Homo sapiens: one gene and its partner. The protein of the gene in region 1 purifies or fractionates together with the protein of each later gene. This does not show direct contact. Each region holds a gene or a part of one and is shown in the gene's direction. Other genes may lie near its edges. The genes, in order: PLEK and WDR75.

Region 1 (15,533 bases):
GTTACCTAAGTACTATGCCTAGTATCCAATAGTTATTTTTTCTGATCCTCTCCCTTCTCCAACCCTCCACTCTCACATAGCTTCCAGCGTCTCATTTGATATTTTAAAGAAATGTTTGGTCCAGAAATATTCCCTTTTTCAGCTGCAGAACTAAACCTAAAGACAGAGTTTCCTGAGAAGGTATTAAAGTTCTTAACTACTTTAGACATTAAGTTTCCTTCAGTTACCTCACGTGTGGGTTAAAAACTGTATATGTCAAGAATCTGACATATAATTGGTGTACATAAGCTGCATAAGACACTGATTATTTGTATCAGCATCAATATATGCTTCAGTAGATAGTGGGGCCTCCCCTAGATGTTAATGGGGCTATGTACTGGTTCCTGGGTTGGTTGCCAAATTAATTATGAAGGAAGGGCCATAAAAATCTTTGAAAAGGCTCTTAGAAGCCTTGGCTATGGTTTTTGATATTAAAGCATGAAAAATAATATAGTGAATCTTCCTCCATTCACCTTTTTCTCTTATGCAGTTCAAGATACCTGGGTAGTAACAGAGAACATCTTTGTCCTGTGTCTTGTTTTATGAAATAATTTTATTGCAGATAAGTTGTTTTGGGTGGAAAAAATATAGCATTAGAAAATGCTGGTGCAGGAATTTTGTCAGGTCAGAAATCTTGGGGTCAATAGTGTTAACTGTAAAACGTTTCTGCTTTTCTTCTGTGCAAGATGACTGTTGACATTTCACAATCCAGGTTTCCTCTTTTGCCTCCTGAATAAGATCTCCAAATGAAGACAGTGGTTAAGAGGGGGAGGGAAAATACAAGATTCTGTCATTTTCCAGCTTTTTCATTCCAAGTAACACCCATGTCTCTTTGCCTCAGAGTCTTTCACCTTACTTTTTTGTTTTAAAAAAGAGCACTTCTAGCCAACCATGGAGCAGCAAGCTGCTATACGAACATGACTTCATTTAATCCTAACCACCCTATGTGATCCTCATCTTACAGATAAGAAAACTGAGGTTCACAGAGAATAAGTGATTCGTCCACAGTGAAACATGTGGCAAGAGGATGACCTGGGATTCAAATCCCGGCCTGCCTAACAGCAAAGCCTACCATCTCATTGATCCCAGGCAGCATTCTGAAAGGCAGGCTTGCCCTGGCCTGCAAAAGAACTCACTAGAGCCAGAGCAAGGCACGAACAAATTGTTTTGTGGGCAAGATTAAGTTTAAAAACCTCAGCCTCCTTTCCTCTCTGTTTAGGGGGTTTCTTTCTGGCCAATAAACATGTTTGGAAGGTACTCGAATACCTACTACTGAATTAGATATGTTCATCATCATAACTGGAAAAAATGAGAGAAGAGCAAATTATATGCTCTGCATAACCTAGACTCCTCCAAGTCATGTCTCAAACCAGCCTAATTCCTAGAGGTTTATGGAGCAAGCTGTTGTTTCCAGGACAACCAACCTCACAAGCACTTGGCGCAGCAGCGCTGACTCAGAAAGTGGCTGAGGGATTTGGATGTCCTTTGAGGCTGGGAGAAAGCATAGGAATCAGGGTGATGGGAAAGGGAAGGGCAAGCAGCAGGGACAGGAAAGGAAAGGGCTGCAGAAAGCTGTGGTAGAAGTGGAAGAGAGCCCGAGAGTCAGGGTCCTGGCCCAGGAGTTCTTTCCTGGATCTACCTTGTCTTCTAGGCAGCATGAAATAATCTGAAGCGATTTGTGCCTACTGATTCATCATCACTGTAACAGCTAACGCATGTGGTGTTTACCCTGAAGCAGGAACAGTTCCAAGCATTTCATGCCTTAATGCATTTATACAGCATACTTAAGACAACTCAACAAAATGGGGACAATTATTATCCTTACTTAACAGATAAGGAGATTGAAGTACAGAGAGGCAAATGGCCTTGTCCAAAGTCACACAGTTAATAAGTGGCAGAGCTGGTTTGCAACCCAGCAGTGTGGCCCCAGTATCACGCAGAGCCTAACCACTTTCTATGTGGCCCTCGTGGGCTCGTACTGCAGTGACATTCTTTTCCAAAGCACTGTCACCATGATGAGGGGTACCCAGGGGAACATTATGCCAGAGCGACTCCACAGTGTTGCCTACAAAACCGTACTCTTTTTTTTTTTTTTTTTTGAGATGGAGTTTTGCTCTTGTTGCCCAGGCTGGAGTGCAATGGTACGATCTCGGCTCACTGCAACCTCCGCCCCCAAAACCGTACTTTTACCTGTTTCTATGGTCGCCATTTTTCAAATGTATACTACATGCTGGCCACTGTGGTGAATGCTTTATGTATATTATCTCATTTAATCTTCACCACAATGTGAAACAGGTGCTTTGTTACCTTCATTTTACAGGTGAGGAGACTCATGCTTGGAAAAATTAAATAAGTTACCTAAGGTTACAGAGCCTGGAAGAGGCAAAATTGAGATCTGAATTTAAATCTAAGGCTCCAGAAGTCATGCTGTTAAGCACTCTCTGTGCCATTTCTGTATTACTTATTTAATATGTTTTCACTGATAAATTTTCCAACCTGGAAGAGTTCACTTATGTAAAAAATATGCTACTGAATAGACTAGTTCCTTTGCCTTCAGTGAGTTTGTATAGGCACAACACAACCATTTGTTTGGGATGTTATGTCAGTGATTTGATGGATCAGATTGGAAAACTAGATGATGTGATTTATGTTGTAGCCAACATAAGGGCTTAATTGAATGCAGCATCAACTTAAAATAACATGTCCCATGGGTGTGCAAGAATAGATAATAGTAACTGACAGTTCTGCTTTAGATATGCAGTTTTGATCACAGTGTAATTTTCCTTTGAATTCCAGCCATACATTGTATGTGAAAAGAGAAATTTGAGGGAAAGGGGAAGTTAAAAGAGATGCCTTCACTTTGTAGGGAGTGTCTGAGAGGGGTTCTAAACACAAATATCCGATTGCCCCAACCCTCAGCCATTGGTTGTAGCTTCTTTCTGTGATGCTGGGTGTACACAAGAAGGCACACCTCAATTTGTGCATTCATCACACTGACCTGGAGGTCACTCTCTCCCATGTGAGATTGTGAACTATTCGAGAGCAGAGATAGGGTCTTGTTTATTTTTGTTTTTATTTTTATTTTATTTATTTATGTATTTTGAGACAGAGTATTGCTCTGTAGTCTTGGCTGGAGTGGAATGGTACAATCTTGGCTCACTGTAACCTCCACCTCCAGGGTTCAAGTGATTCTCTTACATCAGCCTCCCAAGTAACTGGGACTACAGGCATGTGCCACCAAGCCCAGCTAATTTTTATATTTTTAGAAGAGATGGGGTTTCACCATGTTGGCCAGGCTTGTCTTGAACTCTTAACCTCAAGTGATCCACCCGCCTTGGCCTCCCAAAGTGCTAGGATTACAGGTGTGAGTACTGCGCTCAGAGTTGCTTAATTTTACATCCCAACAACCAGGCCAGTGTTGAAAGCATAGGAGCCATTCTATCATTATTTGTTGAATGAACGTGTCCCAAATAAAGAAACTTGCCTAAAATAGACTTCATAGAGACCAAAGTAACTTCTTAAGTCTTAAGAAAAAGTAATTTCAACGGGGGTAGTCATTTTTAGATGATCATGTAGAATATATTTCAAAGATTTATTATTATTTTTTGGCTTTCAAGCAAGCCCAAGGGTTAGCAGGGACACCTGGAAATAGAAGACTAAAGGGGGAAAAGAGGGACAGCAGGCACCTTGGAATAGATGTGTAGGATCTCAGGGTAGAAAGAGATGTTACAGATTTAATACAGCTTCTCATCTGCAGCTTGCATTTCTTTTATTCATCTGTTAACAAGCATGCTTGAATACTTCTCTTGTTAGGGAACTCACTAATTACATTTTCTCCCTTAAGTTATGCAGAAAACTGTTTTCCTGAAACCTCCACCGGCTGGGACCTCAAAACAATCCAGGCATTCACACCTGCTCTACCTGTTCCTTTATGGGCTAAAACCTAGTTAGTTCCTCCAACAGTTAGAGAGATGATACCATCTTGGTGTTCTGCTTTGAACAGGCTCTGGTTTACCTGCAGCTTTGAGGTCACTTGAACTTAGTATAGTTCTCCAGGAGCACCTGATAAGCATAGAACTGTAAGGAATAGGTACTATTTAATGAGTGATTACTATATGCCAATTACTGATTTAAGCAATTTACATGGATTGTTTTCATCTCCCAACAAAGCTGAGAAGTAGATATCATCATATCTGCTTGCCAGAAGGAGAGAATGAAGTTTAAAAACTTTCTCAAGGCCACATTACTAGAAAGTGGCAGAGTTGGGATTTGAGCCTGAGCCATCCAGCTCCAGAGCCCATGGTCACCTGCAGGCTATGCTTCGTTTAAAGACAGAATTATCATTTTCCTTGCTTTCGATCTTACACTTCTCTGTATACAACCACAACGAGTTTAGTTTTTTTTTGACAGCCCACATCAAATTGCTGACTCATAGAGCTCCTTTTTTCCCACATGCTCATTTCCCACACCTTATAAGTCTTTACAAAATATTATTAAAGAGAAAGGCTGTATCTTATTTAATTTCAATTTGCATTTCTTTGATTGCAGTTGAAGCAATCAATTATGTTTTATTGGACCCAGCTTTTATTCGTTTGAGAATTGCTTATTTATATTATTTGCTCATTTAAAAAATTGGGAGTGTTGATATATTTCTTATTGGTTCTAAAGTGTTTAAAGAATTAAGGATATTAATTTTTAATCATATGATGATACAAATATCTATGCATTTTCATTTGCTTTTCAGTTGTTGCAGTTTTTTAAATATAGAGAAGTTCATTTTTTTTTTTCTTGAGATGAAGTCTTGCTCTGTTGCCCAGGCTGGAGTGCAGTGGTGTGATCTAGGCTCACTGCAATCTCCACCTCTTGGGTTCAAGTGATTCTCCTGCCTCAGCCTCCCAAGTAGCTGGGACCGTAGGTGTGCATCACCACACCCAGCTAATTTTTGTATATTTTTAGTAGAGACTGGCTTTCATCATGTTGGCCAGGCTGGTCTCAAACTCCTGGCCTCAAGTGATCCACCCACCTCAGCCTCTTAAAGTGCTGGGATTACAGGCATGAGCCACTGCGCCCAGCCGAGAAGTTTATTTTTAATATGGTCAAATCTGCCGTTCTTTATGATTTCTTCTTTTGATGTCATGCAATGTCAGACTCTTAGGTGCTAAATTATACCAGTCCCATGATGATGAACAGGTATTTACCAGAAAACTTCAAATCTGACTCAGCATCCCATTGTGGACATGTACAGGTTTTGGCATATAATGGGTGAAAACACATATATGCTACACACACACATGCACACACACACACAGACACACATACACACAGCATATGGATATATATGTGTGTGTGTGTATATATATCTCCATTGAAGTGAAATAGCTAGCTAAGTGGTCTAAAGAAATCGATACAGATTCCAGAATGACTCAGTGTTATACAAGAACCAAAATGAAAATGACATCTGAGGGGAAGGGAAAAAACATAAAATTGAGAATCAGGAGACATGGATTCTACATTAACTGGTCAGATGTACTAGGCCAATCACTTAACATTAATTGTTCAGATGTGGTAGGCCAATCACTTAACTGGGCCTCCACTTTTTTTTATCAATATGGTGACAGTGTTGGTAGATGATCCTAAATTTCTCTGTCATTTGGACATTCCATAATCACACTTCCAGGTTTGCTCTTGGGTGAGCATCAAGTGGGTTGGGGCCAGAAAAGGAAAAATTTAGGAATGGTCAAGGAGAGGTGCTGCCAGGTTACCCGAGTGAGAAACTGGTAGCTGCAGTAGTGGTGAAGAGGAGAGAAAAACCTCCTCAAATTCCATCATCCTGACCTAACTCAGCACTATCAGGCCTGGAAGGATGTTTAAGCTTTGTAAGTGGTCAGATTTCTCTTGTTTCATAAAGTATCAGCCTCTTCATTGTGCATAATGACCCTGAATCCCAAATGACACATCCTCCTCAGAGTCAGACCCCGGAGGCTGCACTTGATTTAGAAAAGCACAACGTGAAGGTTAGTTACATATGTATACATGTGCCATGTTGTTGTGCTGCACCCATTAACTCGTCATTTAACATTAGGTATATCTCCTAATGCTATCCCAACATGGCACGTGTATACATAGGTAACTAACCTTCACGTTGTGCACATGTACCCTAAAACTTAAAGTATAATAAAGAAAATAAAAAAAAAAAAAGAAAAGCACAAACTCATATTGGACAGTTGGCTCCAGAGGCTTTGTCTACTGAAGGCATGCAATGCCAGCTTATCGCTACTGATGCATCCCAATTTCAAAGTCAAAAGCCCTGAGTGATGATGGCAGTTAATAATCTCAGCTATTCCTGAGGTTGAATATTAAATGTTAGGTTTAAAAGGGATTCTGGCAATCATCTAGTGCAACTTTTCATTTCTAGCTCTGAGAACATGTCTTTCTTTTCTTATTTCCAGGTATTTTTAAAATTTTTTATTAAATAGATTTGTCTATGTATTTCACTAAAAGTATATTCTAAATTTTAATACATAGCAGAGTCATATGTTACTCATTCATTTAATAATTTTCCCAAGTTATTTTAAAAGTTAAGCCCACAGAAAAATGAGGAAACTAGTACCATTATTCATATAGCCTTTACCTAGATTAATCAATTGATAATGGATGGGCACATTTGCTTTGTCTCTCCCTATCTCTGAATTTCTGTATAAATAAACACACATATCATATTAGGTTGAGATAGTTGAGAGTAATTTGCAGACATCACGCTACCTCACTCCAAAATACTTCAACATACATCTTCCAAGAAAAAGGACATTTTCCTATATAATCACAATGCCATTATCACATCTAAGAAATTTATTACTAATAAAATGACCTTATCTAATACACCTTTTACATTCAAATGATGCCAGATCACTCAATAATATTCTGCATAGCGGCTTTGAAAAGAATCCATGATTCAATCGAGGACAATTCATTGCATGAATATGCTGTTTTTCCAGTGATTAAGTGAGAGAAGTAACTAATGTGGAATAGTTTCCTTCTATAGAAGCAACTTGAAGGGTGGTGTTACTATAATCACTGTATACCCCTCCATGGAGTTAACTAACAGGACCTGGAGTTAACAACTTTGTTTTTTAATTGAAGGATAACTTACAATAAGGTACATGAAGGGTGTCATAATTTTTTACATACCTATACCTCATGTAATCAACACACAGATAAAGACAGAGACATTTCTAGTATGCTATAAAGTTCCATTGTTCCCTTCCTAGTCTATACTCCCATCGTCGGTAACCATTATTGTAATATTTTCTCATAAGCTATGCCTGTTGTTGAACGTCATATGAATGTAATCATACTCTAAGCACATGTTTTGCCTGTTTGCTTTTCACTCAACATCTATGAGATTTATTTATAATGTTCCAGGTACTAGCGGTTCATTTTTTAAAAATTGCTAGGTTGTTTTCCATAGTATACATTTACTGTGTTAATAATGGATTTATATATTATATTATACAGTTTACTTATTCCTTCTCCTGTTGATGGGCATTTGGGTTAGTCTTTGTTTCTGGCTATGATGAATAAAGGTGTCATGAACATTCTTGATGAAACCTTTATGACAATATGCATTCATTTCTCTCAGATCTTTGCCCAGGAGTGAAATTGCTGGTGCAAAGGACATATATGTGTTTAGCTTTAGCATAAAACCACCAGATATTTTTTCTGCACTGGATGTGATATTCTGCACTCCTGCCAGCTATGTTTGGTACTTCCAGTTATTCTACCTCCTTGTCAAGTCTTATTCTTCTCTGACTTTGAAAATGCTAGGTACTCTAGCAGGTGTGTAGAGGTATCTCATTGTGATTTGAATCTGCATTTTCCTGATAAATAATGATGTTGAACACTTTTTCATAAGCATTTGGATGTTTTCTTTACTAAAGTGCCTGCTCGATACTTTTTGCTCATTTAAAAATAGGATTATTTGTACTTTTCTTATTGATTTGCAGGAGTTCTTTGTATTCTAGATATGTTTCAGTTGTAAAACAGAAAGGCATTTTACTGGAATTATTTCATGTGTTGGCACAGTGTCTGATCTTGCTCATTTTTAAAAGGGGAAATAATCCAGTGTTCGTCTGGAATAGTTATTCTGCCCATGCAGAAAAGAGATAGGGTATTTTAATTTAGAAAATTATTTTAGTAACTAGAACAAAGGAAATGTTTGGACAAGCAAAGTGATAGTCCCACAAGTATTTATCTTTGCATAAATAGTCTTCCTTTTGGTCAACTGGACCTTTATATAGAGGCCCTTTGTATTTTGAGATAAGCAGCAGGGTCTCTTGGGAACTGGATGATAATTCTATTTTGTGGTAGTCATGACAGGGTGATATCATGGGTTAAAGAATAGACCTTTGCCAAATTCTTCCAAAATATAGACCAGAAATAGAGACTTCCCTGTTTTAATCAGAATGGTCAACTTATTGCTAAAGGGGCAGCTGGCATGAACCCAAACTGAAAACATTTTAAGTAAGGATTTTTTTAAGGGCTACATTAATGTGGATAGCCTCATTCTGGCATTATAGACCTTTTGCAAGTGATTTTCATACAACTTAGCCATGCCTGCACACAAGGCTGCTGTCTGAGTTTCTTTTTGACATTCATATTCAGATAAAATCTGATTAGCCCAAGAGATGGAAGCAACTGCAGGGTGCATGCCACCACTTATGACTGCTTTGTCTATGGGAGACACGGCTGTTGGATCACAACACTTTTCCACTGAGTCCAGCCTCAAGCATCCACTACTACTCAGTCTGAATTGACACTTGAGATAGATTCTACTTGCCATTCTTGAGTTGAACTGAACTCAATGGGCAGGTTTGGGAGCAGAAAACAAACCACATAAAGTCAGCCTGAAATGTACCAGGGGAGCTTATGGGTTGACTGTCACTGTATATACATTTTATCTTAATTAAAAAAAATTCCAGTAGAATGACAGTCCTCCTTTCCCCTGAAGGCATCCTTCCTGCGCAGCCTTGTGCAAATGTGGACCACCTGCCTCCACACTGGCCAAAGCTGAGTTACATATTGTCCTGCAGAGGTCTATAGGATCATTTTAGGAAATATTGTCACACTTATTGTGTCTATTCTTATGTTAATCATTTCATTATGTCTTATTTATTCAGTCTTATCTATTAATAATGTGATCTTATTTTTAATTTTTAATTTTTAAAATTTAAATTTTTGTGGGTGCATAGTAGGTATATGTATTTATAGGGTACATGAGATGTTTTGATACAGGCATGCAATGAGTAATAATAACACCATGGAGAATGGGGTATCCATCCCCACTAAGCATTTATCCTTTGTGTTACAAACAATCCAATTACGCTCTTTTAGTTATTTTAAAATATACAATTAAGTTGGCAATAGTCACACTGTTGTGCTATGAAATCATAGGTCTCATTTATTCTTTCTGTTTTCTTGTTTTTGGTACCCATTAACCATCCCCACCTCCCTGCAGTCCCCCACTTCCCTTCCTGGCCTCTGGTAACCATCCTTCTACTCTCTGTGTCCATGAGTTCAGTTGTTTTGATTTTTAGATCTCACAGATATGTGAGAACATGTGATGTCTGTCTTTCTGTGCCTGGCTCATTTCACTCAACATAATGATCTTCGGGTCCATCCATGTTGTTGCAAATGACAGGACCTTCTTTTTTATGGCAAAGTAGCCCTCCATTGTGTATATGTACTACACTTTCTTTATCCACTCATCTGTTGAGGGACACTTAGGTTGCTTCCAAATCTTGTCTATTGTGAACAGTGCTGCAACCAACATGGGAGTGCAGATATCTCATCCATATACCGATTTCCTTTCTTTACAGTATATACCCCCCAGTGAGATTGCTGGGTCAAATCGTAGTTCTGTTTTTAGTTTTTTGAGGAACCTCCAAACTGTTCTTCATAGTGTTTGTACTAATTTACATTCCCACCAACAGTGTACAAGTATTGCCTTTTCTCCACATCCTCAAAAACATTTCTTATTGCCTGTTTTTTGGTTAAAAGCCATTTTGACTGAGATGAGCTGTTATCTCATTGTAGTTTTGATTTGCATTTCTCTGATGATCAGTGATGTTGAGCACCTTTTCATATGCACACTTGCCATTTGTATGTCTGCCTTTGAGACATGTCTATTCAAATATTTTGACCATTTTTTGAATGGTTTATTAGATTTTTTTCCTCTAGAGTTGTCTGAGCTCCTGATATATTCTGGCTATCAATCCTTTGTCAGATGGGTAGTTTGCAAATATTTTCTGTCATTCTGTGGGTTGTCTCTTCACTTCGTTGCCTGTTTCCTTTGCTGTGCAAAAGCTTTTTACCTTGATGTGATCACATTTGCTTATTTTTGCTTTGGTTGTCTGTGCTTATAGGGTATTGCTCAAGAAATTTTTGGCCAGACCAATGTCTTGTAGATTTTCCCCAATATTTTCTTACAGTCATAATGTGATTTTAATTACCACCGTTCATTCCACAAATTATTGATTGAACACCTGACAATATGATGGTGAAGTAAGTTCTTGCCCCCCTGGAACATATAGTTGGGTGGCAATAGTTGACAGAGTGATTTTACACACTTTATATATAAAACATGTGTATACATATGTATTTAAAGATATATACACTGTATAATGTATATGTACATTATTCACATATAAGCATATGGCATGCATTATACACTTATATATACATATTTTATACATGATCTAAATCTAAACTATGCTTTAAGATGGAATTATTATCTCTCTCTTAGCAAACAAAAAGCCATGGCTCAGAAATATTAAACATTTTACCCAAAGACATGTACAACTAATAAGTGGTTGACATGAGGCTCAAATGTAGGTTCGAGTTTTGACCCCAAATCATAGCATACACTGAAGTATCCTAAATACTTCAAGCATCATTGGATGACATGTCATACAATAATGGAGGAGGCCTGCAAGTCTGAGGCAGGCCGGATTCTTCACAATCCCAAACCTTATTCCACCAGAAGAGAAACCAAAGGGAAGTGTGTTTCCTCACAAATACATTCATGCAGATCCTCAGGGCCTTCAGCTTTCCCATTCATTACTCCACATGGCAACTGGCTAAATATTTTTGACTCTTCCTCATTGGGATGATACTGATACCAGTTCATTGTCATTTTTCCAAGAATAGAGAGGATGAAAACTCAAAGCATGGAAGACATTCATACATGGCCATCTGTCAAGATACTTAATAATACAACCTCTCATTTGTAGAGCACATTCGAACTTATAAAATCTTATCCAAATTATTTCATTTCATATGTTCTAGAAATCTCTGAGGTAGTCATTCTTATCATTTTAGTGCTGGGAACTGAGCCTTAGAGAGGGCAAGTGGCTTACACAAGTGTGGGCAGTAAGAAAGTCATAGAACCAGCTGGGCGCGATGGCTCACACCTGTAATCCCAGCACTCTGGGAGGCTGAGGCAGAAGGAACACGAGATCAGGAGTTCAAGACCAGCCTGGCCAACACGGTGAAACCCCGTCTTTACTGAAAAAAATAACATAAATATTAGCTGGGTGTGGTTGTGCACACCTGTAATCCCAGCTACCTGGGAGGCTGAGGTGGGAGAATTGCTTGAACCTGACAGGCGGAGCTTGCAGTGAGCTGAGATCATGCAATTGCACTCCAGCCTGGGTGACAGAGGGAGAACCTGTCTCAAAAAAATAAAAATAAAAATAAAATTTAAAAAAAGAGACAGAGAGAGAGTGCTTGAGCTAGATCATCTAAGATTCAGCCAACCATCTCAGCAGTGTTACCAGAGCTTGTAAGTGAAGGCAGATTTGGGGTAAAACCAGCTTTTATTTATATGTGTCTTCAGTGAGTCAGATTAGTTGGTTTGCAGGCCATATTTTGAAAACCACTAGGCTTTAGAATATTTAATTCTTTCTCCAATTCTGACTAACCCTCCCAAGAATTGAAATGTTCTAAAACCCTGAAAAATGAAAACCCTTCCAACCGAACACCAATAATTATCATTTTTGTATTTTTCTCCTCAAAATAGGCAATTAAACATGTAAAAATAAATAAAGACTTCAAAAAAAGAAAGAACTATACTCTAAGATCATGTGTCAGATGTAGTTTCAGAAGCAAGATCTGCCGGCAGTTCTTACACATAGCGGGGGTGAGAATGTTTCTGTGAGGTGGGTCCTTTGTGGTTCTTAATGGTGTGAACCCGACATGAAAAGGGAGGTGCAGGGGAAATCATAGCAGGAAAGGGTTTGGGTGGGGATGAAGTAGATAATAAGAAGGATTGGTTGCTCTTTTCAATGAAGTGTGATAGCTGCTAGCATTTGGCAGTTTGGGAAATGATCTTCTTTTGTATTATTTTAATGAACATCCCCTGTGTGCTCAGTATCATGAACCAAGGAAAGTACCTGATAATGTAATTGCCATGGAGAAGGAAAGATAACCATACTGAAGACAATTAAAGAACTACATGAGGAAATATATAACAAAGTTCCAGGTTGTATGGCACAATCAGTGAGAAAAGCAGGAGGCACCCCTGAGATCACGGTGGGTCTGTGCAGTTCGGGAAGCCTCATCAATGAGGTGGCTAAGCTGAGCCTTGAAGGATATGGAGAGGTTAGGCAAGGTGAGAAAGAGGAGAGGGCAGAGTTGGGGAGGAGTATTCCAGAGAATGGGGTTGGCTTGAGCAAAGAGCCGGGAGTAGAAATGAGAATGGCTCCCCAAGTAGCCACTGATTTGAGAGGATTTGTGTTGAAGGAACAGAGATGATGTCACCAAACATTTTAAAAACCAACTGTAAGTAAATATAGAATCTTTCCTGTTAGGAGGAAAATACAGTTTGCAAAGAGCCCTGTCCATCTCAGCTCTTTTGGTTGTCATTACAGGGGAGCGTGTTCAATACGTGGAAACCCATGTGGGTTGTATTGTTAGAAGATGGAATTGAATTCTATAAGAAGAAAAGTGACAACAGCCCCAAAGGAATGATCCCGCTGAAAGGGAGCACTCTGACTAGCCCTTGTCAAGACTTTGGCAAAAGGATGGTAAGTTGACATCATGAGCTGCCGTGAACCCCTGGTCAGGCACTCAACTTTTGGTGCAAGCATTGCCTACAATGTGGGTGGTGCTCCTTGGGCTGGTCCCTCTCACCACCACCCACACCCCACCCTGGCATTTGGGTTTCTCTTGGCTAGAAGAGGTTTAGGCCAATGGCCTCTGCTTCATGAGGGGCCCCAAGCCCTTGAAATAAGCCATTTCTAATGGGATGTGTTTTGATTTTCAGTTTGTGTTTAAGATCACTACGACCAAACAGCAGGACCACTTCTTCCAGGCAGCCTTCCTGGAGGAGAGAGATGCCTGGGTTCGGGATATCAAGAAGGCCATTAAATGCATTGAAGGAGGCCAGAAATTTGCCAGGAAATCTACCAGGAGGTCCATTCGACTGCCAGAAACCATTGACTTAGGGTGATTTTCTGTGTTTACTTCTCTTTACCCATTCCTTCTGAAAGACACAAACATAGCAGATCCTGCTCCAAGGCTTGCTTTGACCACCTCTGATGTTGTATCCACTCTGCCAGGTCAATACTGGCACTTGGTGTACTAAAATGTTTACCTGGGTCTGAAGGAGTGATCCAAGGCCTACTAGCTGAGGAGAGGAGGCGAATGGAGTACAAATTCCCTCATACTGGGTACCAGAGAGAGAGAGAGAGAGAGAGAGAAAGAAACATCATCATTGCATTTATAACATAGCCATAATAAGTCAGTCTTGAAATAAAGCTTTAGGATCTTTAGGTAGAAAGGAAAAAGCAGGGGCTATGCATCCAAGCAAGCAAGGTTTCAAGTTCAAGTTCATTCATTTACACACTCAGGAAGGGCCAGCCAGGGTAAACACCCATCCTGGTGGAAGCCATTTATGTCCTGACCCAGTTTAATGGCCGCTGATGTTGGTTGGCTTGGAATTGCAGGTGATAGTTGTAGACTAAAGGTGGTCAGAGGCCAACAGGAAGATCTAGCTCCTGACAGAGGTTGGGAATGGGATTTCTTCCTTCCTGAGTATCTCACATCTTTGGTCACATGAGCCCCTTTCTCTAGGAGTCACTTTCTTCTTGGTAGTTTTGCTTTTTTGTTGAGCATTCCCTGAAGCAGGAGCCCTGTTGAGAAGAATCCCATGCCAGCTGCTTAAAATGTCCAACAAGAATTTTGTTTTTATGGAGGGTGGGGTGGGGAGAAGCACTGAGAGGAGCCTAAAGACATCCCTTCTGCACTTCTGCATGACGACACAAGACTTGGCATGGCACAGGAGTTTGACAAAGTTTGTGAACTGAGCTGAGTGAGACTCAGCAGCCTCCTTCACCACAAAAGCTTTTTGGCAAAGAGCTCCAACGAGGCACCTAGTGCAGCTGCAGCTGCTGATGGGGGCCATCGAGTGACCACAGTCCTGGCCAGTGCTGTCAGAACTAAGTGGGAAAAATGCTCGGGCTATAGGGAGCCACAGGCTACATGGAAGGGGCCTTCTGTTTTGTTGCTTAGAGCTTCTCTCGTAAGGCTATCTTTGATGTATTACTTCAAGGACAAAAATGAGAACTTCTCACCATTTTGCCTTATATCTCATCATTTTAAAGATAAGACATATGCTTAGTGGAAGCATTCACTTTCTTAAAGGCCAATGTCTACCACAGATGGTCCCTTGAAGAGCATTAAAGAATTGGGATATGAGGATTGAGGGACATTAAAGATGTAGAATGTGTAGAAAATGGACCCTAGGAACCTTTCATCTTTGACCTCTAAATTGGGGCAAATTTCCATCCCAGGAACCAATAATTAAATCAACAAACAGCTGAATGAATTTAAGAGAATTTAGGAGACGTTAAGTACCTTCCAGCATTGCTAAACGCTGTGCAGGCTACAGAGTTATGCAGATATGAATGTTGCCCCTCCACTACTTATGATCTGATGGAGGGAGATTAAGCTCAGGGGATACCTGGGGTGGGGGAGCTTGTGCTCACCTCCCAGAGAGAACTTACCATTCTGAAATGTTCCCCACTCATCCAACTGGGTTTTTTTTTGTTTGTTTGTTTGTTTGCTTTTTTATCTCTGTGCAGTGCCTTATATTTGTCCATGAAAGACACTGAAAAAGGAATAAAAGAACTGAATCTAGAGAAGGACAAGAAGATTTTTAATCACTGCTTCACAGGTAAAAGCACTTGCAGGCCTGAAATAGGGCGACTGGGAAGGCGATATGGAGTCCTCCTTCGGCCTCGTCTGTGAGGTGGGGGTATGAAGTATGGGGGTTGGAAGGGGTCCCAGAATGCAGCCTGGTGAGCCTGAGGATGAAGCTCCTACAGAGTGAAAATAGAAAGAAGTTTGTTGTTCAAGCTAACGATTTTGTTCAAGCTTTATTTGTTCAAGTTAACATTTGTTCAAGCTAACGTTCCAATCAAAGGATTTTTTTTCTC
Region 2 (15,533 bases), about 120 Mb from region 1:
TTAGAGCTCTTGTTTTTAACTGTTACATGGCCTTATTTGACATTAGCTATTTTAAATTAATCTCCATCATTGTTTCATTTAAGCTGCATGACTTCTGTCACAGCTTTGTGTAGTGTAGCTATAGCGAGTAAAAATACCTTTAAAGTAAAGTGGTCTTCAACAGAAATACAGGGAAGTACATCTTGTCTTTGTTTACTTTTAGCATCCTCACACCCATGTGGTGAGAGTTATGTCAGTTTATTTGACTGGTTCTTTAAGAAAGTTACTACATACTAGAGAAGATTGTGTGCCTAAAAAATGAGAAGCCAGGAAAAGTGATTTTTCTTTCTGCAGGTCTTCCTGGAGACTGACAGGACAAGTCTTAGATGGTACCATATGCTGTGGTATCCTTAGAGTCTTACTTGGGTGTAATGCCCGGAAGCCCCAGGAAATAGGAGACACCTTCAACCCGATTATGGTTTGGGGAGTAATGACTAGTGTATGGAGACAATGTAGGCTGCTCATTTGTATTCTCTACCCTCCTTCCCACTCCACACCCTCAAAATACTAGTGAGTGCTTGGTATCCATATGTATGTGTCTGTATATGTTCCAGGCAGGGGTTTTTTTTTTTTTAGACAAGGTCTCACTTTGTTACCCAAGCTGGAGTGCAGTGGCACCATCTTGGCTCACTGCAACCTCGACTTCCTGGGCTCAAATGGTCCTCCCACCTCAGCCCCCTAAGTAGCTGGGACTACAGGCACGCACCACCACGCCCAGCTAATTATTTGTATTTTTTGTAGAGATGGGGTTTCACCGTGTTGCCAGGCTGGTCTCAAACTCCTGACCTCAGGCGATCCCCCCAGCCTCCACCTCCCAAAGTGCTGGGATTACAGGCGTGAGCTACCGTGCCCGGCCATTATTTGAATTCTTGATATTATATTTCAAGTAGCATGAATATTTTTAAATGAGAAATAATGGTTACAGTACATAGTTGTCAGTGAAATGTCCTTACTGACTGTGTGGGTATGAGTTATTAGAAAAAGAAAAAATAGCTGCGTAAATATAAAAGAAATACAGATTTTAGTTGTTTTTGAGAACTTCATAACTTGAGGCATATATGAACTATATGCACAATGTATCATATATGTGTATATATCAGATTAAACTTCTTAATTTTGTTTGTGTACATCACAACTACATACCTTTAGTCTTCTGTTTAGCTAGATTTTATCAGCTTGCAGCTTTAGAAAATTTGATAAAAACCCCATTATAAACCAGTGATCTTTAAAACCAGTTGTTTTAGATTCATGAAAGAATGAAAAATGGTTATTTGATGGAATACTTTTGAGAAAACAGTCTGAAACAGTGTCCTATTTATCCATTTAGTCATTAAGGTAGTCTTTTGCAGGCTTTTGTTAGTTTTCAAACCATTAGATTTAATTGGCCACATTTGACTGGTGGCTACCGTGTTGACAATACAGCTGTTGCTATATTTGAGGAGAATTGATGTTTTTATAGTATTGAGTATTTTAATTTGTAATCATAATAAATACTTTTCCACTTTTTAGGTCTTTATATCCATGAGTTAGGATTTTTTTTCTGTGGTTCTCATATATATTTTTCACTAGACATTTGATGGTCTTTTGATAGTATGTTTTACTCTATATTCTAATTGACTTGCTAGTATTTAAAAATAAAATTGATTGTTATATATTTCTCTTATAATCAGCTAAATTTACTTATTCCATAAGTTTATCTATAAACTATTTTGGCTATGCCTTGGTGTAGTCATGCTGTCTGTGAACATGGAAGTGATTATTTCCTTCTTTCCAATCCTTAAGCCTTTCTGGTTTCATTTCAGTGCACTAGACATCCAGTTAACGTTGAATCAAAATGGTAATAATATTCTTAATCACAAAGGGAAAGTTTTCAATAGTTTAACTTTTAGTGTGGTGTTTGCTATAGATGTTATCCAGGTACTCTTGATGAGATTCAAAGGGTCCCATCCATTCCTGAGTTTCTGAGAGGTATTATCATGAATACGTATAGAATTCTGTCATTTGCTTTTTCTGCATCTATTCAAATAATCATGGTGTTTTCCTTTTGTTCTGTAAGTGGGGTTACATTAATTTATTTTTCAGCTGTTAAGGTAATCTCATTCTTGCAGTAAACTGCGATGACATGATACCCTTTAATATATCATTGGTATAGTATTTTGCTTAAGAATTTTCATCTGTCGTGAAATCGGCTTTTTTTTATATATATATAATATTTTTGGTATAGTATTTAAATGTTTAGAAAAATTTATCAGTGAAGCTATCTTGGCCTAAAGGATATTTGTTTGTCCAGCTTTTCTAGTTGTCAACAGAGGAGTTGGTCAGCAACAAACTAATCAGATATCACTGGAAAAAAAATTCCTGAACCAGTGATCATTTGTCTTCAGAGTATATTAAAAGATACGAAGACACTTTTTGTAGCTTTAAATGAGTTTATTTCTCTAGTACGGTAGCAAAAACAAAAGTGTTAATTATATTTTTCTTTCTCTTTTTTCCTCAAAACACCATCCTTTTAATTTCCTTGAATGGATATGAAGGCACCAGTCTGCTGAGTGGCGGTCGTGAATCTGTACTTGTAGAGTGGCGCGATGCAACAGAGAAGAATAAGGAGTTTCTCCCGCGTTTAGGAGCTACTATTGAACATATCTCAGTCTCGCCTGCAGGAGATTTATTCTGCACTTCTCACTCTGATAATAGTAAGTCTAAATTTTTTATTATGAGGAAATATATAAACACCATAAATTAGCTAGCATCTGTAGGGAACAGAGAATAAAGAGACCTAAAACTAAGAGTAGCGTATGAGATTTAATGAGCCTTCTTTTCCTTGCATTACTCCTCTCTTTTCCACCCCTCTCTACCCCTAGGCACCACCAGAATTCAACATTTTTGAGAATTATTTTTATAAAATGGAAGGCTAAGTGTATTTGGTTATTGATGTGCCACTTACATTTTCAAAGTCTTTTAGTGTGGGATGACATGAGGAAATAAAGGGAAGGTTTGGAAGTGGACATTGGTGCTTTCATAAACCTTCCGTTTTCAAAAGAATACTGCAAGATTCTCTTTTGATACAGCTGTTACCTGGGGGCAAGAGTCCTGTAGATTTGATAGAAATAGAGGCAGTCTTATATTTCTCCAAAACTTTGTTCATCCAGTGACTACTCAGCCTAGACTAGGATATCTTTGTAAATCCACTTCCTTTTCTTTCAAAAAAGAACATAACTGTGAGCAGTCCATTTAGTGGCATGAAAAAGTTAAACTATTTTTATTAGATATACTCTATAGATTTTGCATTAACACTTAAAATGTGTTCATAGGCACAACTGATAAAAACTTAAAGACTCCAACAGAAAAGCCCCTATCCCCACCCCTAGATTTTCCACTAACTCACAAAATGTATTCCTGATTTTCTAGTAGTACTCTGAGTTCATTGAACTTACTGGGTTGTTTTGTATTCTGGTATATTTCAGAATATAAACTCAGGTGACTCCTTCACCTTGAAGCTCTAACCCAGGGGTGTCCAATCTTTTGGCTTCCCTGAGCCACATTGGAAAAAGAATTGTCTTGGGCCAGACATAAAATATACTAACACTAATGATAGCTGATGAGCTAAAAATAATAATAATAATAATGTTTTCAGAAAGTTTATGAATTTGTGTTAGGCTGCATAAAAAGCCACCCTGAGCCACAGGTTGGACAAGCTTTCTCTAACCTATTGATATTTAAATACCTATTTTTTTCTACCCACAGAGATAATAATTATTCACCGAAACCTTGAAGCATCCGCAGTAATTCAAGGCCTAGTGAAAGGTATTGCAGAACTCAGTGGATTTGGAATCATGAACATTTTAAAGAGTGCATATTTCTCTTATTTCACCTGTTATTTGTCACCACTTCTGCAGATAGGAGTATCTTCACTGGTTTGATGATTGATCCAAGAACTAAAGCTTTGGTTTTGAATGGAAAACCTGGCCACCTGCAGTTTTATTCTCTCCAGAGTGATAAACAGTTATACAATGTAAGATTTTGATCATTAGCCTTGAAATTAATGAAAGCTCTTTACAGTACCACTGGAGTCAAGCAATTTGTTTAGTAGCTTTTAAAACAAGATCCTGTGCATATGTTTACTTGAACATAGTATTATCCGTGGTTACTTAGTTCAGTTGTTCAGAGCATAATTCCATTGAGGCCACAGTTGCAGGTTACATGTAAGCCAGTTGGCACTCCTGTACGTGCTGTCTCTGTCTTTTGTTTCAGAATGCCCTCCTATTAGCTATCCCATACATCTGTGCTTTTGAGTCACAAGGATAAAGAAACAAAAATAGGTAGATTGACAGTACAAATTTGTATCTGCTTCGTGGTGAAACACTATCATATTCACATATTGAAGATAAAATTTTCAGTGTAGATTAAAGAGGAACACTTCTTCCAATCCTGATAAGTCCAATCCAGATGTCCCACTTTTCTTGTTCCCCACAGTACTCTTTACAGATCTCTGTCATAGCAACTGTGACACTAGCTCTTTCTCACCGTGGCCTTTAGACCCCTCAAAAAAAAGGAAGCATATTAATCATTTTATGCTTATCTCAAGTATAATGCCTGTAAATTGTAGGCATTTAGTACACTTAATAGTAGGCATTTTATTTACTTAGTATAGGCAAGGAAATGGGATTTTTTTTAAAACAACCATAAATAAATGCTGGCCTACTTACATTGGCTATCTTTTTTCATTTCTTAAAGATTGTAGGTTTATTTCTGTTCTGCTTGTTTCTGTTGACAGAGAATCTAGCCTTGAGATGATGTAAAGCTGTTTGTTCTTAGAAACAAAAGAAAAGCACTACTATAAATTAACGGTTCTGTTGTATCATATAGTGGGTGTTAGTAATCGCTAATATTCAAGGTCATTGAAGAATAATTACCACCAAATTGATACTATTATAATGTGTTCCCTTTTTTAATGGCAATTTTGGTGTCCATAGTAACAATTAGTTCATTTTTGCCTTTATTTAAAAATCTATTACTATACAGTACAGAAGTTGTCTTGGATGTAGTTAATTATCATTTCTTGAATGCTGTAACATTTGTGTATTTATGTTAATAAACATTTTGGTTTTTTGGTTTTTTTTACTCATCAGTTAGATATTATACAGCAAGAATATATTAATGATTATGGTCTGATCCAAATTGAACTAACAAAGGCTGCATTTGGCTGCTTTGGTAACTGGCTTGCAACAGTGGAACAGCGGCAAGAAAAGGAAACTGAGCTTGAATTGCAAATGAAACTGTGGATGTATAATAAGAAAACACAAGGGTAATACTATCTGTGTAGCCACTTAATTTCAAAGTATAAAATATTTCACTTCCCATTTTACAGTTTCAATTGTCTTTAAGATGTTTCATCTTGACAAGGTTTAGATTTAGAGATATGGGAGAGGTTTTATTCTAATAAAACCTTTAAGCTTTCTGCTCTGAGAAGACATTGATGTCCTCTAAGTCATAATGTCATCTCATAATGAATAAAGAAACATGGAAAAGTGACACCTCCTCAAGGGCATAATACCGAATTCTAGGCAAATCCAGGGTTAGAATCCAAATGTTCCCTTGCTCTTCCGTTAACAGCATACTGCCTTTTGAAAAGAGGGAGTGTAGGTAGAAGTGTAGCATAGTATAATGTAGCATGGATGTTGTGATTAGATAAGGAATCCACTCTCGTACTGTGGCTATAATAACCACTTAACAGATCTTTGCTGTGTGCCAAGAACTTGGCTTAGAGCTTTGTACCCATTATCTTACTCTTCAAAAGAACACTGTAAGATAAGCCTGTTGTCTATATTTTATAGGTGAAGAAACAGGCCCAGAGAGATTAAGTGGTTGTCCCTAGTCACTGTTGTTATAACTTGTGCTTTTTTAAAATCACAATCCTATGCTGCCTTGATGTTCTTTTAAGAACACAGTCCTAGTTGTCTTTCATTCACAGCGTTGCCCTCTAAGCTCGAAATAAGCTTTAAGAAGTCATTTAGGTGACTAAAAATAGTAAATAATGACCAGCCAGTTTGACTAAGTAGTTTCCTGTCTATTTTTCCTTGCCCCAGGTGGGGCGTTTCACGGCCTTTCCATTTTTTATTTTCAAAAGTAGGCAGGAATCTGGGTTCTATACAAGTTTCCTACAGAGTTTGATACAGTAGGCTTTTGAGTATCATTGATTGGTGACCTGTATTATCCTCATTTTGTACCAATGTACTAGTGGGTTGACTACTACACAGAATGTTCTCTAAAGTCACACAAGGGCAAAGGTGATATATTAGAACTCTTTGCGTCCTGTGGCCATTAGAGGTAGAGCACTCAATTGTTTGTCATTCTACGTGATTATCAGTTGCCTGTTGTTCAAGATGCTATTGTAAAATGTACAGCATGTCAGAAATTCTTATATACATCACTTTGTCCTCATGCAAGAATAAATTTGTGGTTTCCTTCCCGCTAGGTTTATTCTTAACACTAAAATTAACATGCCACACGAAGACTGCATTACAGCTCTCTGTTTCTGTAATGCAGAAAAATCTGAACAGCCCACCTTGGTTACAGCTAGCAAAGATGGTTACTTCAAAGTATGGATATTAACAGATGACTCTGACATATACAGTAAGTTATTAAATATGTTATGTTTAAAGTGTGCACAATTTTAGGAATTAATTTCTTTTTCTCATGACTTGTATCCATCCTGGGAGGACATTTTCTACTTTATTGAATTCTACAGGATATTGCTTAATCTTAATAGATTTAAGAGATTACATTTTACATGCCTTTTTCCTCAAATCTGTTCTTTTTAAATGGCATTCTTGATTAATCATGTGCTGATTATTCTGTTTTTTTAGGGTAAAGTAAAAGGGGCTTTTACCAAGAGTCCTTTCACTCCTCCACTAGAGGGAGGTCAAGGTCTCCAGGAGAGGGCATAAATTTCAGAACAGTCAGTATTTTGTAGCAGTTCTGACTTAAAGAAGTTGTGGGGAACAGGTTTTCTTGTTTTGTGTCTTTGTTTCTTTTTTATTTTATTTGTTATTTGTGTGTGCATCTTTGTTTCTTAATCCCTACTGCTTATAATGTCCCTCATTTAGCAGTCTCCCTTTAACAGTGGGGGATACAATCCAAGACCCCCCCGCCCCAGTTGATGCCTGAAACTGCAGATAGTACCGAACCCTGTATATACTGTTTTTTTCCTATACATACATACCTGAGATAAAGTTTAATTTATAAATTAGGCACAGTAAGAGGTTAATAACTAATAATAGAATGATTACAATAATATACTGTAATAAAAAGTGAATATGTGCATGCTCTGTGTCTGCCTTTCTCTCTCTTTCAAAATATCTTTTTGTACTGTACACAGCTATTTTCAGACCTCAGTTGACCCCTAGGAACTGAAACCACAGAAAGTGAACCCTCAGATAATGGGAAACTAGGGGGAACTACTGTAGCATTCTCTAGCATTTACACAATTTCTGAACATTATGGCTTATATTTCCACAGAAAAAGCTGTTGGCTGGACCTGTGACTTTGTTGGTAGTTATCACAAGTATCAAGCAACTAACTGTTGTTTCTCCGAAGATGGTTCTTTACTAGCAGTTAGTTTTGAGGAAATAGTCACAATATGGGATTCTGTAACATGGGAACTTAAATGTACATTTTGCCAACGAGCTGGGAAAATAAGGTAGGTAAATCTTCGGGAAGTATGTAGTACTATTTTTTAACTTATTTAAACAAGTCTTAAAACTTTAGTAGTCATTTATGCCCTCTCCAAAAGTAGCCTGAAGGTCAGTGGGGCAAGCAGCTAATCAAAATGCTGGAAAGCCAAAAATTCTGAGTCCACAAACTGTGCCAACATTTCTGAAATTCAGGTTAACATTTAACTCTTGGCCTACATATTTTTTCTTTGGAATACTTTCATGGATGTGCTGAATGGTAACAGAAGCTATACATAAGCCTCAGGGGATCCAAACCTTCTTATTTTCTGTGTATTCCCATAAAAACCGTGTTATGCGCCAACCTCATTGTTTCCGAGAGGTGCAGGGGAAAGTAGCAGCAGCATTTTCAGGTCCTGCTTCAGGTAGTTGGGCCTGAGGACAGAATCAGATGCCTAATGAGATCGTCTCTAATTCCCAGCATGTCTGATTCTGAATTTACTTTGTAAAACTTTCTTCACAATTGAAATCGCAAGTTTTCTTCTTCTTGGTAAATAGGATTTTTGTCAGATGACTGTACGTTTCATGTACATTTTCTCTGTTAGATGTAAATTGGTATACCGCACAGTGTGTTAAAGAATTGGTCATCCGTTCTGTTTTCCTAAAGAAATAGCTAACTAGACCCTTCCTTTTGTACTCCTTAGACACTTTTTTCTTCAGGATAATTATAAACAAAAATATATATGTCTATATAAAAATCTGCATTACATAGAACAGCCGCTGGAAGCCTGCAGTTCTTTGTAACTGAATTTGCTAGAACTGACTGTTGCTAACTTCCTTGTGGTTTTAATCTAGGCACCTTTGCTTTGGGAGATTGACGTGTTCAAAGTATCTACTTGGTGCTACTGAAAATGGCATTCTTTGCTGTTGGAATCTGCTGAGCTGTGCATGTAAGATATTTTTTACTCTAAAGTGATCTGGCAAAGCGCATAAGGAGTTGACATTAAACTTTGGCATTTTAGGACTTAGGGATCATATCATCAGGTCTGTACTTGGAATAGTCAGTTTTTTACGTGACATATGATGCCACCAAAATTTGGAATACTGGGCCTGTAATAGACATTATTTATTAACTGCTTAATTGTTGGTACGTCAGCTTCCATTATCCTTACCTTTTTCTACTGTTTTCAGTGTGTGTGACTTTCTGATGCCCTCCATATTCCCCATCCTCGTAACAATTTGAATAATGTTTTCTGCTCATTTTTAATACTTACTAATCTACATTATCCCTGACAGCTTAAATTCAAATGTAGTCTATCACAGTCCTAACAAATGTGAACTTAGTGGCATTTTACCCATTTGAGTGTATGTTTGGAAGGCATAGTAGCTGCTTATAAATGAATGTGTATGGTAACTTTTTTCAGTATTCTTTACAGTTAACTCTGGTTAACATACTGTACACATTTAGCAGCATCAGAAAAGCACTAGACATAAATTTCAATGAAATAATAATCTTTTCATAGTTTGTACAAGGAGCACTACAGTTCCAGTATGTTTTTCTTTCGGCCTCTCACTTTAGTGCAGCATTCTACAAATCATTTCAGTGTGTCTCCATGTGTGTTAGTTGGAAGCATAAGATTCCTCTTCCTAAGAATAAGAGAAGTTTTTTAAAGCTTTTGGTAAATCTTTCCTTAGAAGTGAATCACCTTTGTTTTTCCCCTCAGTGGAGTGGAATGCAAAATTAAATGTTAGAGTTATGGAACCCGATCCTAATTCAGAGAATATTGCTGCAATCTCTCAGTCTTCAGTGGGTTCAGACTGTAAGTACAAACCACACTTTGTAGTAAGAGAACATCTATGACCTAAGTTTTCTTCTTAATATAATTTGAGCCAAACTTGCCTTCACATCAGATGTTAATTGGAAGCCATTTTGCTTGAGGCACGGCCCTTCTTTGCCCCAACACTTTGTCATTGTGTGCGTCCATACTTAGTTCTAGGAGAGCTCCAATATGTTTCTTATTTTTCCACAAGCCAATTCGTACTCAATCTTTAAAATTCAAGAGATTTCACCAGTTTGACATATTTCCAACTGCCCCTGAGAAGCTTTAATTGGTCATCCTCTATGTTCTTGAAGCAGTTTCTACATATCTCATTTCTAGTACTTACAGACAAAATACTACTGTAATAATATTTTGGTTTCTGTCTTCTGCAGTGGGCCCTGGCCTCTGGAGCACGAATTCTTCTTTCTGTTTTTCATCCTCATAGCCCTCATTCCTAACCTGCCTGGCCCATAGTAGGAACACAGTAGATACCTCTTGAATCAAAGCCTAAAACAGTCATGACTTGGGCCAGTTACTCAATGGGGTGAGTCCCAGGATTAGTGTGATCTGCCAGTCTGAGGCTAGAACTAACCTTTTCAGGCAAAATGTTATTGTTTCTTTGTTTTTTCCCTCTAGTGTTTGTATTTAAACCTAGTGAGCCAAGGCCATTGTATATTCAAAAGGGTATCTCCAGAGAGAAAGTCCAGTGGGGAGTGTTTGTTCCACGAGATGTCCCTGAATCCTTCACCTCAGAAGCTTACCAGTGGCTAAATAGATCCCAGTTTTACTTCCTAACAAAATCACAGGTAACTGCCTCCCTCAAAAAAGGCGATCACTTTGTACATGGAATTTTAGACTAATAGCCCATGACTATTGGTGTGAGTTTGTTTCTAGGTGAAACAGCTTCATTAAAGGATTATTTCCCAAAAAATTGTCTAATATGCTCAGTACAGCAGCATTATTAATGTAAATGTATTACCGTTTTACCCCACACTTTTGAGGTTCCTTAGGTATTGCTTGTATTAACTCTGTGACAGCAAAAAAGCAGAAGACAACTAAAATACTTTAAATTGCATGATTCTTTTTTCTTTTTCTTTTTTTTTTCAGTGTTTGATTTGCAATTTTTAAAATGGTGGCTTGAGTTTTGTCTGTCAGTTATATTTTTTATTCATTACCATTTCTTAAGTATCTCTCAGACATAATCTTGTAACTCTCATCGTGGTTATTAAATAGGTTTAAATCTTTTATTCCTTTTCTGTTGTCAAATATATATATCAAAGTGAAAAATTTGACCTTCTCATTTTTTAACACCCTGTAACACCTTGTTTAGATTTGCACTCTACAGTTTGTCTTTTGCATCATTAATTCTCTCTTTTCAGAGTTTATTGACATTCAGTACAAAGTCTCCAGAAGAAAAACTCACACCAACAAGCAAACAGGTATGTTTTAGCCATTCATAGCAGGATGTATTGCCTCCCTAAAAGGATACAATTACCTTTTAGAAGTCAACTATGAAAAAAATATTTCACTTGGCCCTAAAATAGAATTAAAAGCCATATACTTATAAACTGATATGTGTCTCTTGAAAGTTTTAGTGCTCTTTTAAAATTATTTTAATTTATAATATCAGTAATATATAATTCTGATTTAAAGAGTCAAATATTTTTACAAGGCTCTTCAGAAAAAACTTCTCCAACACCACTACCATTACCCACAAAGACAATCACTCTCAAATCTTTTAGCTGAAGTTTTTATTTAACTCTGAATCTCTAAGAAATCTCTAAGAAATGTTTATATTTCTAATTATAGGTTTTTCAGATTTAGGTATTATCTGTTAACTCTGATCTATTGACGCTGAATTTTTAGCTGTTTTTCACATCAGCACTCCCTGCATATACACAACACACACTTTCCCTACTTGTCCCCCAATTTTCCCCATATGGGTAAATGTTAAATTGGTTAGTTCAGTAGTCATTGTCATAGCTGTGTTAACACAATTCATAGCCAAGCCATGTAGTAATAGGCAGATTGTTTTTCCTTTTGTGACCAAGTTTTTATTTTCTGTGGAGTTAATGATTGCCTTGTTTTTTCATTTGCTTAGTTTTCTATTCTCATGTAATTCAACCCCAAATTCTGCTCAAGTTGTGTAAGTATTCTCTCAGTGTTTTCAGATACATTAGGTATTCTTTCAAGTCATAAAGGATTATTTCCAAGAGCCTTCTGACTGTCTTCAGTCTGGACTGATTGCTCTGGAAACCTGCTACACAGTAGTCATCCTAGGATCTATATTCACCATCATTCTGGGGATTTGTTTGACCTCTACTCTATTAGTGGTGTGGTTTTTCTCTTTCTTTGGTCACTCCCCTGTTTTGGTGAAGCATTCTTTTAGTGCATTGGAGGTCAATTTAAGACCTTGCATGTTTGGAAATGTTTTTATTCTCTTTCACTTGATTATTATAGAGTTGTAGGTTGAAAATCATTCTCGCAGAACTTTGACATTATTGTCCTATTATTTTATAATTTCCATTATTACTAGAAGACCAATACCATTCTTGTTCTTGTTCCTTTGTCTGTAACTTGGCTTGTTTATTTTCCTTTAAAACTCATTGGATTAATTCAATAATTTTTTGTTAATTATTTACTGTACGCCAGGGACCATTGTAGACAGTTGGGATACAGTAGTGAGAAAAGTAGTCAAGTCTCTAAACTTGCGGTATTCACAGTCCACCAGAAGATAGAGACAGTAAACAACATGCATTAAGTAAAATATGGAGTAGAGAAGGTGGTAAGAATTGTGGTGGGGTAGAGAATAGACGAAAAGATGGCATGCATGGGATGCAGCTTGTAATTTTAAACAGGGAAGTCTACGTAGGCCTTATTGAAAAGATTCTGACTTTTTCTCTGAGTTACATATAGGGCCCCTTGGAGAGTTTTGAGTAGAGAACTAAGGAGGAGCTAATTACTTCTTTCTCTATTCTTTTTCTAGAACTCCTATTATTTAGTGCTGGACTTTCTAGAATGGTTCTCTATTATTCTTATTGTTTTGCCTATTTTTTGTTTGTTTTCTGGAAGATTTCCTCATCTTTATCATCAAATCTTTTTTTCTTTTTCATGGTCTGTTTCCATTACATTTTTTTTTGTTTTTGGTTTGTCTTGGTTGCTGCCTTTCATCTAGAGGTTTTCATCAGAGTCTGATGATTCTTGGCTGTCTTTGGATTTAAAAGTGGGTTAAAAAGCCACTTGGAAGTTCTCTGCCTGTGCAGAACTTATCCCTTGGCTTCCACTATCTGAGCTAATTTATTGAGACAGTCTCAAATGTCATTACAATTGACCCTTGAACAATGTAGAGATTGAAAACCTATGTATAACTTTTGACTTCCCAAAACTTAACCTGAAGCCTTACTGATAACAGTTATTTGTATTATATGTATTATATACTGTATTCTTACAATAAAGTATGCTAGAGGAAAAAAAAAAGTTAAGAAATATCATAAGGAGGCCGGGCACGGTGGTTCTTGCCTGTAATCCCACATTTTGGAAGGCCAAGGCAGGTAGATCACTTGAGGTCAGGAGTTCGAGACCAGCCTGGCCAACATGGCAAAACCCCATCTCTACTAAAAATACAAAAATTAGCCAAGCATGGTGGTGCATGCCTGTAATCCCACCTACTCGGGGGCTGAGGCAGGAGAATCACTGGAACCTGGGAGATGGCGGTTGCAGTGAGCCTAGGTCACACCACTGCACTCCAGCCTGGGTGACAGAACAAGACTCCATCTCAAAAAAAAAAATTATAAGAAAGAGAAAAATATATTTATTCATTAAGTGGAAATAGATCATCACAAAGGTCTTCATCCTCATCTTCACATAGAGTAGGCTAAGGAAGAGAAGGAGTTGATCTTGCCATCTCAGGTCTGGCAGAAATAGAAGAAACTCCACATAGACGTGTTATTCGAACCCTTGTTATTCCAAGGTTAGCTGTATCTTTAGGTCTTACTTAGGCTGGTCAAATTAACCATAAAAAATTCTATGCGTTCCTGCCTAAAGGATTTAGACCTACCTGTCAGTGTTCTGAGAACCCCCTACATGAAGTACAACTGCCTAGATATGAAGATACCACCACCACCACCACCGCTATCCATACCTAGCCTAAAGATGTAGAGCCCTCTGCTGGGGCTGAGGAGGAGCTGTGGGGTGCTTTCTAAGTAGACTTTCCACCAGCCCGTCTGGTTTGTCTAGTCCCATTTTCACCCCACATCCAGAGTTACTATTATTACCAACTCCTGAGCATTTGCAGGATTCTGTAGTATGAATTGGGATGCTTCTTGGCTTTCCCTACAGCCAGCTTAGAATTGTGCTTTCTCAGGTCTACTAAGTTCAATACCATCCTTCAGCCTGCTCTCCAGTTTCCAACATGTTACTGTTAAGGCCTTTTCCCTCATTTTCTATCATTGTGAGTATGTGCCCTTTGAAAACCCTTTTGCTGTCATTTTTGTGGGATTTGGTGAAGAAGCAGTGGTAAATGCATGTATTATTCTGTCATCTAAGTGTTCACTGTTAGCTCTTCTCATAAGTGGGATGCTAGGCCTCAGTTGCTTTCTCTGTGAAATGAGAGGATCATACTAACTGGATAATTTGTAAAATTCCTTTCATCCCAGACTTTTTATGATTCTGTAGTACTTACTGTTAAGTCAAACACAGTTCTTCCTTTTTTCTGAAATAATTTCTCTTTGTCTTAAATCCTTAAAGCTGCTAGCAGAAGAAAGTCTTCCCACAACCCCATTTTATTTCATATTGGGAAAACACAGGCAACAGCAGGATGAAAAACTAAACGAAACTTTAGAGAATGAGCTGGTACAACTACCCTTAACAGAAAACATACCCGCAATTAGTGAGGTAAGTAATTATGAAAACCATGTGAAACAGATTAAATGCACTTAAAGCACCTGAAGTTGGAGTTTTGACACAGTCAATCTGTAATTTGTATGCTGTACAACTTTAATACCCAAACTAAATAACTAACAACAAACCGAGTAACTTAACCTTGTGATCTGGGATTGTTTTGTCCTGGACCTGGTGTAGGGATAGGGGTGGTTGTTGGCATAAATGTAGGAAGGTAGAAATGTATTTTTCTTTGGTTTGGCTTTTGTATAGGGAAAGCCTTTTCATGTTTCACTCTTGGCATTTACAATAAAAGGGACTCCGTGAGGACACTGTAGGAACAGACTGCGGTGGAGGATAAGCTTTTTAATTGCAACCGTGTTTTCTGTTTGACTCCAGCTTCTTCACACTCCAGCCCATGTCCTGCCATCTGCTGCTTTCCTGTGCTCCATGTTTGTAAATTCATTGCTGCTGTCTAAAGAGACTAAGAGGTAAAGCAGTTCTTAAGACAGGTTTGGACACTCTCTTTTGGGAAACAGGATCGTTTGTGTTTATCCTTTTTTAGAGTATTCTTCCACTGTATTTCTTTTTATTTCATAAGTTTTAAAATAGATTTAAAGGCTATAGGATTATTAAGTCAAGTAACATACATTGAAAATAAGTTTCAAAAAAGATCTTGTATGTGTGTGTTTTAAGGGCTTGGTACATAATTTAAAATTACATGTTTGTAAATTCACCTGCTCTTTTATAAATAACCCATAATTTTTAAAGTGTACTTAGTAACAAAATTCTTCATTTACTTTGTGTGATTATATTTCTACATAGGTGTCAAATTAGAAAGTTACTGTTTAGAAACATTTAATAGTGTTTATATTTTATTCTGTTATTGTTAAAGTGCTAAGGAAATTCCTGAAGATGTAGATATGGAAGAAGAAAAAGAAAGTGAAGATTCAGATGAAGAAAATGATTTTACCGAAAAAGTCCAGGATACAAGTAACACAGGTTTAGGAGAAGACATTATACATCAGTTGTCAAAATCTGAAGAAAAAGAACTGAGAAAATTTAGGAAAATAGACTACAGCTGGATAGCTGCCCTTTAAGCCTTGGAGATGGGGAGGATCCTTGG

The links.
Region 2: the proteins of PLEK (region 1) and WDR75 purify together in Homo sapiens (affinity purification with mass spectrometry; 2 studies listed by BioGRID and IntAct, with this or other methods). This does not show direct contact.

Annotation. Positions count from the first base shown.
Region 1 is NC_000002.12:68,367,363-68,382,895, forward strand, and holds part of PLEK (pleckstrin), read left to right. Parts: intron 1-12,965; coding exon 12,966-13,121; intron 13,122-13,360; coding exon 13,361-13,542; intron 13,543-15,179; coding exon 15,180-15,271; intron 15,272-15,533. UniProt on the Homo sapiens protein: Major protein kinase C substrate of platelets.
Region 2 is NC_000002.12:189,459,911-189,475,443, forward strand, and holds part of WDR75 (WD repeat-containing protein 75), read left to right. Parts: intron 1-2,573; coding exon 2,574-2,732; intron 2,733-3,783; coding exon 3,784-3,843; intron 3,844-3,935; coding exon 3,936-4,051; intron 4,052-5,168; coding exon 5,169-5,344; intron 5,345-6,514; coding exon 6,515-6,672; intron 6,673-7,557; coding exon 7,558-7,738; intron 7,739-8,564; coding exon 8,565-8,659; intron 8,660-9,433; coding exon 9,434-9,529; intron 9,530-10,165; coding exon 10,166-10,335; intron 10,336-10,908; coding exon 10,909-10,968; intron 10,969-14,275; coding exon 14,276-14,422; intron 14,423-14,806; coding exon 14,807-14,898; intron 14,899-15,302; coding exon 15,303-15,507; 3' UTR 15,508-15,533. UniProt on the Homo sapiens protein: Ribosome biogenesis factor. Part of the small subunit (SSU) processome, first precursor of the small eukaryotic ribosomal subunit.